Linked DNA regions of Homo sapiens: region 2 is linked to region 1. The links come from fine-mapping of genetic effects on gene expression. A gene starts in region 1. The other region holds a variant in brackets. All regions are shown on one strand. Distances are between the middles of the regions.

The links. PIP is the estimated chance that this variant, and not a neighbour inherited with it, causes the effect. A credible set is the group of variants that fine-mapping cannot tell apart.
Region 2: its variant is the best candidate, but not a certain one, in a credible set for the expression of RAB24 in sigmoid colon (GTEx, PIP 0.84).

Annotation. Positions count from the first base shown.
Region 1 is chr5:177,301,966-177,306,345 of GRCh38, forward strand. RAB24 (RAB24, member RAS oncogene family) reads right to left here and starts at 1,754. Exons shown (of 8, transcript NM_001031677.4): 1 at 1,207-1,754; 2 at 1,044-1,112; 3 at 787-865; 4 at 612-679; 5 at 432-531; 6 at 163-213; 7 at 1-22. The coding sequence starts at 1,323. PRELID1 (PRELI domain containing 1) reads left to right here and starts at 1,834. Exons shown (of 5, transcript NM_013237.4): 1 at 1,834-2,112; 2 at 2,660-2,885; 3 at 3,906-4,019; 4 at 4,133-4,211. The coding sequence starts at 2,021. It also overlaps a transcript of MXD3 not described here. RefSeq lists enhancers at 1-644, 1,809-2,686, 2,325-2,424, 2,535-2,584, 2,605-2,664 and 2 more and silencers at 1,645-1,714, 1,765-1,844, 1,955-2,094.
Region 2 is chr5:177,326,896-177,331,275 of GRCh38, forward strand. No RefSeq gene overlaps it. Among named protein-coding and RNA genes, the nearest start is that of MXD3, 17 kb to the left of the region's middle. RefSeq lists an enhancer at 1-184. The variant C/T (reference allele first, on the strand shown) is at 2,192.

The DNA.
Region 1 (4,380 bases):
GCCACTTTCTGGAAGAGCTCGTCTGGCAGGAAAAATGATGATCAGCGAGGGCCCAATGCCAGTAGCCCTGGGATCTCCCAGTGACCCAGCCCTCTGTGCCCTATTCAGCTTCCTCTGGTGCCCCTGCATGTTCCTGCTGTGAGGCTCCAGCACAGCACTCACCCACACTCTGGCCTGTCTTGCTGGATGTTTCAAAGAGCTGAGCTTTGATATCTGTAAAGAGAAGTGACTAAAGCCTCATACCTGAGAATTAGATAAACAGACAAAAGGGAGGGCTAGCAGTTCAGGGAGTCTCCTGGACCCCACAGTTCAAGGAGGCCAGGAAGACCTCCTAGAGCACCTTGCCCTGGCAGCCAAGGCAGTCCCTATTTTCTTTGATCCACCCAGACAGCCACACACCCCCACCCCCCAAAGGGCTGAGGAGCAGCTACTGTCTGCATAGTCCTGGACGTCGTGGAAGTCCACACGTCGACGCCTCCGGTCTTCTTCCAGCAGGTCACTCTTGGTGCCACATAAGTAGATTTGGCAGCCCTGAGGCAGAAGACAAGGGTCACCTCCACAGGCCAACAAAACCCCAGCCCCTAGTGTTCTAGTGAGGTCTGTTCACCTACCTCCTCTAGGCTGCGCAGTTCCTTCACCCAGAACTTTGCTCGCTCAAAGCTGCTGCTGTCTGTGAGGTCTTGGTGTGCGGCATGCAGGAGACAACCAAGTGGTCAAGGGCTGTTCTCTGGCTAGCCTGGCACCCATCTTTTCTTGTGAGACAGCCCAAACCCCCCCCCCCCTTACCATAGCAGACGATGGCAGCCTTGGCACCCCGATAGTAGATTCTACTCATGGCCTCATAGCGCTCAGAGCCTGCTGTGTCCTAAAGAGTAAGGCCTGAGTCAAACTTAAGGCCACGTTCTCCAGACCCCGCTATTTTCCAGATAAGGAAACGGGTCTATGAGAAATGGGTCTGTGAGGCCACAAATCAACCAGTAATAGGCAGGACCTACACCTCCTCAGGAATGAGTCTCCCAAGAATAGATGGCCGGGGGACTTACCCAAATACCTAATGTCACAGTCCGGTCTCCGACCGACATCACCTTGGCCACGAAGGCGGCCCCGATGGTCTGCAACGAGAGGGAAGAGATCGGGGCCATAGGTGCAGATTACCGGCCCCCCACTCCCCCGCCCACCGTGCCTGGCCCCTCCGGATGCACTCACGTTCTGATAAGGCCCCACCAGAAAGCGGTCGTGCACGTAGCGCTCCACCAGGCTAGTCTTGCCCACGTACTCCTTGCCCAGCATCACCACCTTGACGTCCACGCGCTGCCCGCTCATGCTCCCGGGGCCGCTTCAGCCACGTCAGGGTCCTGAGCGGGGACGGGAGGCAAACCCCGATCTCCGCTCGGCCCAGGCAGCGCCCAAGCCTCAGACCCCGACCCCAAACGGCGCCAACCTACGACTCCAGACAGCGCGTCGGGCTCGAGCTCTGGCCGTGGCCTTGCACTTCGGCAGCGCCCCGTGTGCCCCCGCTGTTCGGCCCCGGGCGCCGATTATCCTTCGAAGACCCCAAGCCTCGGGGCGGCCTGGGAGCGCGCGGGACAGCGTCCTCAACAGCGCAGCACGCCGCCGTGCAGCTCGCTACTCCGTCATTCGCTCGCCTGCCCGGCTTAAGCTCCGTTCTGGCTGGGAATCCCAACCGAACCTGGGGTCTCCCGCAACCCGGCTCCTACCCGCAGCGCCGCGACTCCCGCGGGAGGGGGCTAGAGGGCGAGGGGGCGGGGCCGCAAGGTCACGTGGCGCGGGCGCCGGAAGCGGTGGCTACTGTGTGGCTGCGCCGGAAGTGGCGCGCGGCCGGACAACTCATGGCGGCGGCGGCGGCGGCGGCAGCTGCTTGGGCGCGGTGCGGTGGTGACTGAGCTACGAGCCTGGCGGCGGGTGTGCGCCGAGCCCCGGCCCGGCCCGGCCCTCGCGTGCCTCCCAGGCTCCGCACCCCTGATGCTGCGCGGGTGCTGAGCCCGCTTCGGCCGGGACGATGGTGAAGTATTTCCTGGGCCAGAGCGTGCTCCGGAGTTCCTGGGACCAAGTGTTCGCCGCCTTCTGGCAGCGGTACCCGAATCCCTATAGGTACGTGGTATTTGGAAGAGCAAAACCGCGCCATCTCGCTATCTGGAGATCGAATTATGGGTAACCCCCAAGTACTGGGACCAGGAAGGACTCGATATCGAATCCTAGGTAGACCTTATCGGGGAAGCGGCCAGGCCAGGCCTGCAAGGTCCTGAAGGGAGGTTGGGCCTGGGTGGTGGTTTACTTGAGACCTTAGTGTAAGATTCTTTTCTCAGTGTGGTGAGACAAGAAGAGGCGGCAGTATGGGAGTTGGGAGGGATCTTGGAGTTGGAAATCCTATTTCTCTGCCCGTGGCGCTTTCCTGGGGTGCAATAAATCATGAGGTCCATTCCTGCTAGAAGGCAGGAATCCAGGTCAGTCAGATGGCGGGAGTGGGAATTTGCCCTGGGATGGGCCCTTAACTCTGGTTTGAACCATAGCACATACCACCCTGCAAGGTTACGGGAAGGCGTGGCCTCTCTAGGCCCGGAGCCTCCAAATGGGAATCCCCTCGGGCAGTCTCTTAGGGGCAAGCTTCTGAGGGTCACCTTCACCCTGACACCTGCAGCAAACATGTCTTGACGGAAGACATAGTACACCGGGAGGTGACCCCTGACCAGAAACTGCTGTCCCGGCGACTCCTGACCAAGACCAACAGGATGCCACGCTGGGCCGAGCGACTATTTCCTGCCAATGTTGCTCACTCGGTGTACGTCCTGGAGGACTCTATTGTGGACCCACAGAATCAGACCATGACTACCTTCACCTGGAACATCAACCACGCCCGGCTGATGGTGAGACACCTCCTGTTGTGATTCTGCACCTCCCCCTCTCCCCTCCCCCCGAGATAGAGAGCTCCTCAGATACATGTGGCTAGAGAGCCATAAGGCAGCTTTTGTGGCCGGAGGCAGGTCTGGGTTACTGAGGGTTGACAGCTGTAGAGTATGACCTCAGGTTTTCTTCTTTTCAGCTGGCCATCCTCTCTGGACCTGTCCTTTGACTCATTCATACAGTGGGGGAGGGGTACCTATCTTACGGAGTTGTCCTAAGTTCTAAATGCAAAGCGCTCCCATCTGGCATCTATGGCACAGATATATGTTGGACTCACAGGAGTGATGCTGAGTGGCGGAGGCAGTGCTTTTCTTTTTTTTTTTTCTGTTTTTTGTTTTTTTCTGGTGACAAGAGTCTCACCCAGGTTGGAGTGTAGTGACATGATCTCACCTCACTGCCACTGCCACCTCCTGGGTTTAAGCAATTCTCGTGCCTCAGCCTTCTGAAGAGGTGGATTTCTAAGCACACACCACCACGCCTGGCTAATTTTTGTATTTTTAGTACAGACAAGGTTTTACCATGTTGGCCAGGCTGGTCTCGAACTCCTAACCTCAAGTGATCCGCCCGCCTCGGCCTCCCAAAGTGCTAAGATTACAGGCGTGAGCCACCGCGCCGGGCAAATGTTTTTATTTGGACTGTCAGGAAGCTCCAGAGCTGCAGCTGGTGGAAGGCGGCTAAAACACTGCATGCGTCTAGATGCACAAAACAAAATCCAGGAGCAGGATGGGCTGGAAGGCCCTTTGTTGATCTCAAGAGAGAGACCTTTTGCCTTCTAGTTTAAGAGTCAGAAGAGAGGTTTTCGAGAGCAAAACGACCTTATTTATGGCTTCTTGTTCTGTCAGTGCCACTTGGAGGTGCAGTCAGGGGAAGGAATGGATTTTCATTGTATTGCTTCGCCTCATGAAAAGTGACAGGGAGTCAGATTTATGTGCAAGTTGGCAAAATGAAAGACTGTTCCACGATTGTGGTTGGCCTCTGCATAGGTGGTGGAGGAACGATGTGTTTACTGTGTGAACTCTGACAACAGTGGCTGGACTGAAATCCGCCGGGAAGCCTGGGTCTCCTCTAGCTTATTTGGTGTCTCCAGAGCTGTCCAGGTGAGCAGTGTTGTTGGGGCTGCTGGGGCTCTGGGACCCAGTGCTTTCGGTGTTGGGGCTGGGCTGGGGTCAGTGGGCAACTCAGTATCCTTCCCATTCTCATCTCATGCCAGGAATTTGGTCTTGCCCGATTCAAAAGCAACGTGACCAAGACTATGAAGGGTTTTGAATATATCTTGGCTAAGCTGCAAGGTGAGTTTCTGGGTATGTGGATATTCCTCATAGGGAGAGGCTCATTCAGCCTAGCGGGCGTGGAGTCTGGGTTAGTCATTGCCCTGCTCTGAGCTGGGACTCCTTGTCTGTACTGGGGGTGGGAGGAGGGTGAATACCACCTTTTTAGTGGAGCCTGGCCCAGAGGAGA
Region 2 (4,380 bases), 25 kb after region 1:
AAAGAAAGAAAGAAAGAAAGAAAGAAAGAAAGAAAGAAAGAAAAGAAAGAAAGAAAGAAAGAAAGAAAGAAAGAAAAAGGCTGGACACAGCCACTCATGCCTGTAATCCCTGCACTTCAGGAGGATTGCTTGAACCTGGGCAACACAGTGAGACCCTGTTTCTACAGAAGTTTAAAAACTTAGGCCAGGCATGGTAGCTCGTGCCTGTAATCCCAGCACTTTGGGAGGCCGAGGCAGGCAGATCACCTGAGGTTGGGAGTTCGAGACCAGCCTGACCAACACGGAGAAACCCCGTCTCAACTAAAAATACAAAAAATTAGCCGATCCTGGTGGTGCATGCCTGTAATCCCAGCTACTCGGGAGGCTGAGGCAGAAGAATTGCTTGAACCCAGGAGGTGGAGGTTGCAGTGAGCTAAGATCAGGTCACTGCACTCCAGCCCAGGTGACAGAGCAAGACTCCGTCTTGAAAAACAAAAAAAACAAAACAAAAAACAGAAAATTTGGGCCGGGCGCAGTAACTCATGCCTGTAATCCCAGCACTTTAGGAGGCCAAGGCGGGTGGATCGCTTGAGCCCAGGAGTTCCAAGATCAACCTGGGCAGCATGGCAAGACCCCATTTCTATTAAAAAAAAAAAAAGTAAGAAAAGAAAAAACTGGAGCTATGGAGACATACAGAGGAAAGATGATCTGAAGATGGCCACGTTATGATGGAATCGGAGACTGGAGTGGTGTGTCTACGAGCCAAGGAACTCCCACGTCTGCTGAGAATGGCCAGAAGCCGGGAACAGGAAGGGAAGGGCTCTCCTCTACAGCCATCAGAGACAGCGCAGCTCTGCCAACACCCTGACTTGAGACTTCCGGCCTCTAGAACTGAGAGCCAATCACTTTCTGTTGTTCAAGCCCCTCAGTTTGTGGTCCTTTATGGCAGCCCTAGGAAACCAATGTAAGCACTATGTAACATACTTATTTCACCCGATCTCTCCACTAGACTATGAGCTCCATGGGGACAGAGATCTTTGTCCCTTTTGTCCTCTGTTGTATCCCCAGTGCCTAATGCCGTGTGTGGCACAGAATGGACTGTGACCATCAGCGGCAGTCTGGAGCAGACCTATACATGTCAGAAAACTCACCACACGGAGGGGATAAAGGCAGGGCTGCTTTTAGCCACAAAAGAACAGAAAACATGACTCACAGTAGTTTGAACAAATAGGCATTTTTTTTTTTAACATAAAACCCCTGCAGCTGGCAGTCCGGGCTGGGCAGCACCTCAGCCACGCCAAGGACTCTCCCTCCACCAGGCTCCGGGTGCTCCACTCAGCCCTTGTGGTCACACGGGGGGTTCTGCATGCCAGGGGTCCCTTCCACATTCCAGACAGGAAGACGGGAGCGGGCCCGGCCACACCAGCTGCTGTTAGATCTCCTCACCTGGGGAAACCCAGAGGAACTGGAGGCCCTCGTCGGCAGGCTCGGGCATCTGACCAGCCGCAGTGGGCACACGGCCGCCCTAGCTGGAAGGAGCCGGGAGCTCAGCCAAGTATATAGCCTTCCAGCCCGAGAGGGGAGGAAGCTGAGGGGCAGGGTTAGGAGCAGATGTGGCGTGGCCACCTGAGTGTGCGCCTCAGAGGGTGCAGAAGGACCCAGGGGTCGGTAAATGGTGCTGGAACTGGCTGGAGACAATTGGAAAAATGGATTCCCTACATCACACCCTACGCCAGCTTAACTCCACTTCGATTAAATGCCAAATTTGAAAAGCAAAATTTTAAAGCTTTTAAGCAAAAACAAAATCTTTAGAATAGATTATGAAATCACACTAAATTATAGGCTGTATATCAAATGACGTCATTGAAAAGCAAAAGCCCCCAGGCACACTGGAAGGTATGCGCCAAGGGCATATCACCAGAGGAGCCCCGCACAGGCACTCCTACACGGCCGGAAGAAAGGGCCCGGACTAAACCACCACACAGAAACACAGATGCCAATAAACGCACACACATCCCAACATGGCTAGCAGAGAAACAAACGAAAGCTTTTGCATCCACCTGTCAAAAATGGAAAGCTCTGACTATATCAGGTGCTGAGGGACAGAGGGGATCTCGGCAGGTGCCACCCCACTGTGGTCACGGCCCGATTTGGAGAGCAGCGAGGCACCCTCTAGTAAAACTGAAAATGGGCTGGGTGCGGTGGCTCACGC[C/T]TGTAATCCCAGCAGTTTGGGAAGCTGAGACGGGTGGATCACTTGAGGTCAGGAGTTCGAGACCAGCCTGGCCAACGTGATGAAACCCTTTCTCTACTAAAAATACAAAAATTAGCCAGGCATGGTGGTGCACACCTGTAGTCCCAGCTACTCGGGAGGCTGAGGCAGGAGAATCGCTTGAACCCAGGAAGCAGAGGTTGCAGTGAGCCAAGACTGTGCCACTGCACTCCAGCCTGGGCAACAGAGTTTAAGACTCTGTCTCAAAAATAAATAAATAAATAAATAAATAAATAAGACACATCCAGGAGTGCTTAGAGCAGTATCATGTAGCAGAGCAAAAGCCCTAAACCACCTCCAATCAGCAGCAGAATGGAGAAACTGGAGTCTGTTCATACCTCACAGTGAGAAACACCCATCTTGAGCCACATGTAATCCAAAGACTCACCAACCATGCTGAATTGCAAAAGTTGAGGAATACGTCCATGTACCACTTAGTCTTCAGAAATTCAAAACAATACAATGTATGTAGAGATACATATCCCTGTGGTAAAAATTTTCAGACAGACACAAAAAGTCAGATCCTGCAGCAATCACCTTTGGCAGGAGGAGACAGAGGGATCCAAGTGCGTCCGTGATATTTCTCACGTCGCACGGCAGGTCCATAGCCACACATTCACGTTTAACTTTTGTATGATGAAATACCTCAAATTTTTAGACACACATGGCAAAAACATAGACTATGGCATCACGGTCCTGCGTGTGTGAAATGCGGATGTCAGAATACACATCGATCGTTCTAGGGAAGCACCTCTAGGTATGAATTTTGAAACAATCAACTTTTCTTAGGTACAACAAGGCTATGTTCCAATGGAAAGGGGTGCCCACCGTGACAGCCAAGTAGAGACCGGCACGATCACTTTAACCCCTGCTGCCACAGCATGGGACCTTTAACACCTGCTGCCACAGCGTGGGACCTTTAACACCTGCTGCCACAGCGTGGGACCTTTAACACCTGCTGCCACAGCATGGGCCCTAACTCCGTCTTGTGCTCAAGCTTGGGTACCTGTTAAAACCACTGCAGGGGCTTTTGAAGCCACCCTTGCCCCAGCTCCACCTGACACACTCAGCCAGAACTGGAGAAGAAGGCAGGCTCTTCTCAGTTCTCCAGGGAACTCCAATACACAGCCAAGGCTGAGAACCATCTAGTATGGGACACTAATTGGCCTAGTAATTCAGGAATTCGGTGAAGACCAATTTAGAGCCAAAAATTAAAGGTGAAGCCTGGTGAGCGTGGTGCCGATGACGTGATTGTAGCAGCCGTGGAGAGCTCGTCTCTGGGCCTCGGCTCTACACACCTGGCCTAAAGCCCTCCAGCACCTGACAGGTGAGCGTCGTGGATGAAATGAGTTATGTGCCTCAATCGCTCCGAAGCAGGGCCTGTCATAAACACACGATCTGCTACCTTTTCAAGGAAAGGAACTGCTTTGGGAAAAGTGTTAATAAAATACTTCAATAAGGAGGATCATGATTACTCTTCAGGCTTCACGAACAGGCTCCCAAACCCGTGAAAGCAGCACAAACTCGAACCTCTCAGTCACTGTGTGGAATCTCTAGACGTCTAACCTGTTGAAGGAGGAAACACAGAGGACACGAGAGGCGGGTGACAGTGGACCAGTGAAGAGCTCTGGAGAATGAGAGACAGAGGGTAAAGTCCTTACTCTCACTCATGTCTCTCTATATTTTTTGCAATGATAATCTGTTTGATAGTGTTAATTACCAAAAGCCTGGCTGCTGAAAGGAGGGACGGCTGGCTTCTAAGGTGGGAGATTCAAATGCAACTGAACGGGGAGTGGGAAGGGGACGAGGAAGACAAGATCATCGGCTCAGCAAGGTGTCCAAGGAGGGCTAGAGTTGGGATCAGAGCCAGAGGGGTGGCTTGGGACGGGACGGGACATGCTGCTCCACGGCGCGAGGTGGAGGCAGCCACAGCTGGGGGCGACGATTATGGAAGCTGCCGGGGGTGGTGCCATGCCTTCAGCTGCTGCCTTTCCTCCACTCCCCGTTATCATCTTTGTCCCCTGAGGTGCCCCAAAGGGACTGCCACAACCACCCCCACCATCCTCCAGCCCCTTGCACATCATCCCAGAGCCCCCCGGAGTTCCCCGTCAGTGTACCCGCCTGCCCAGCCA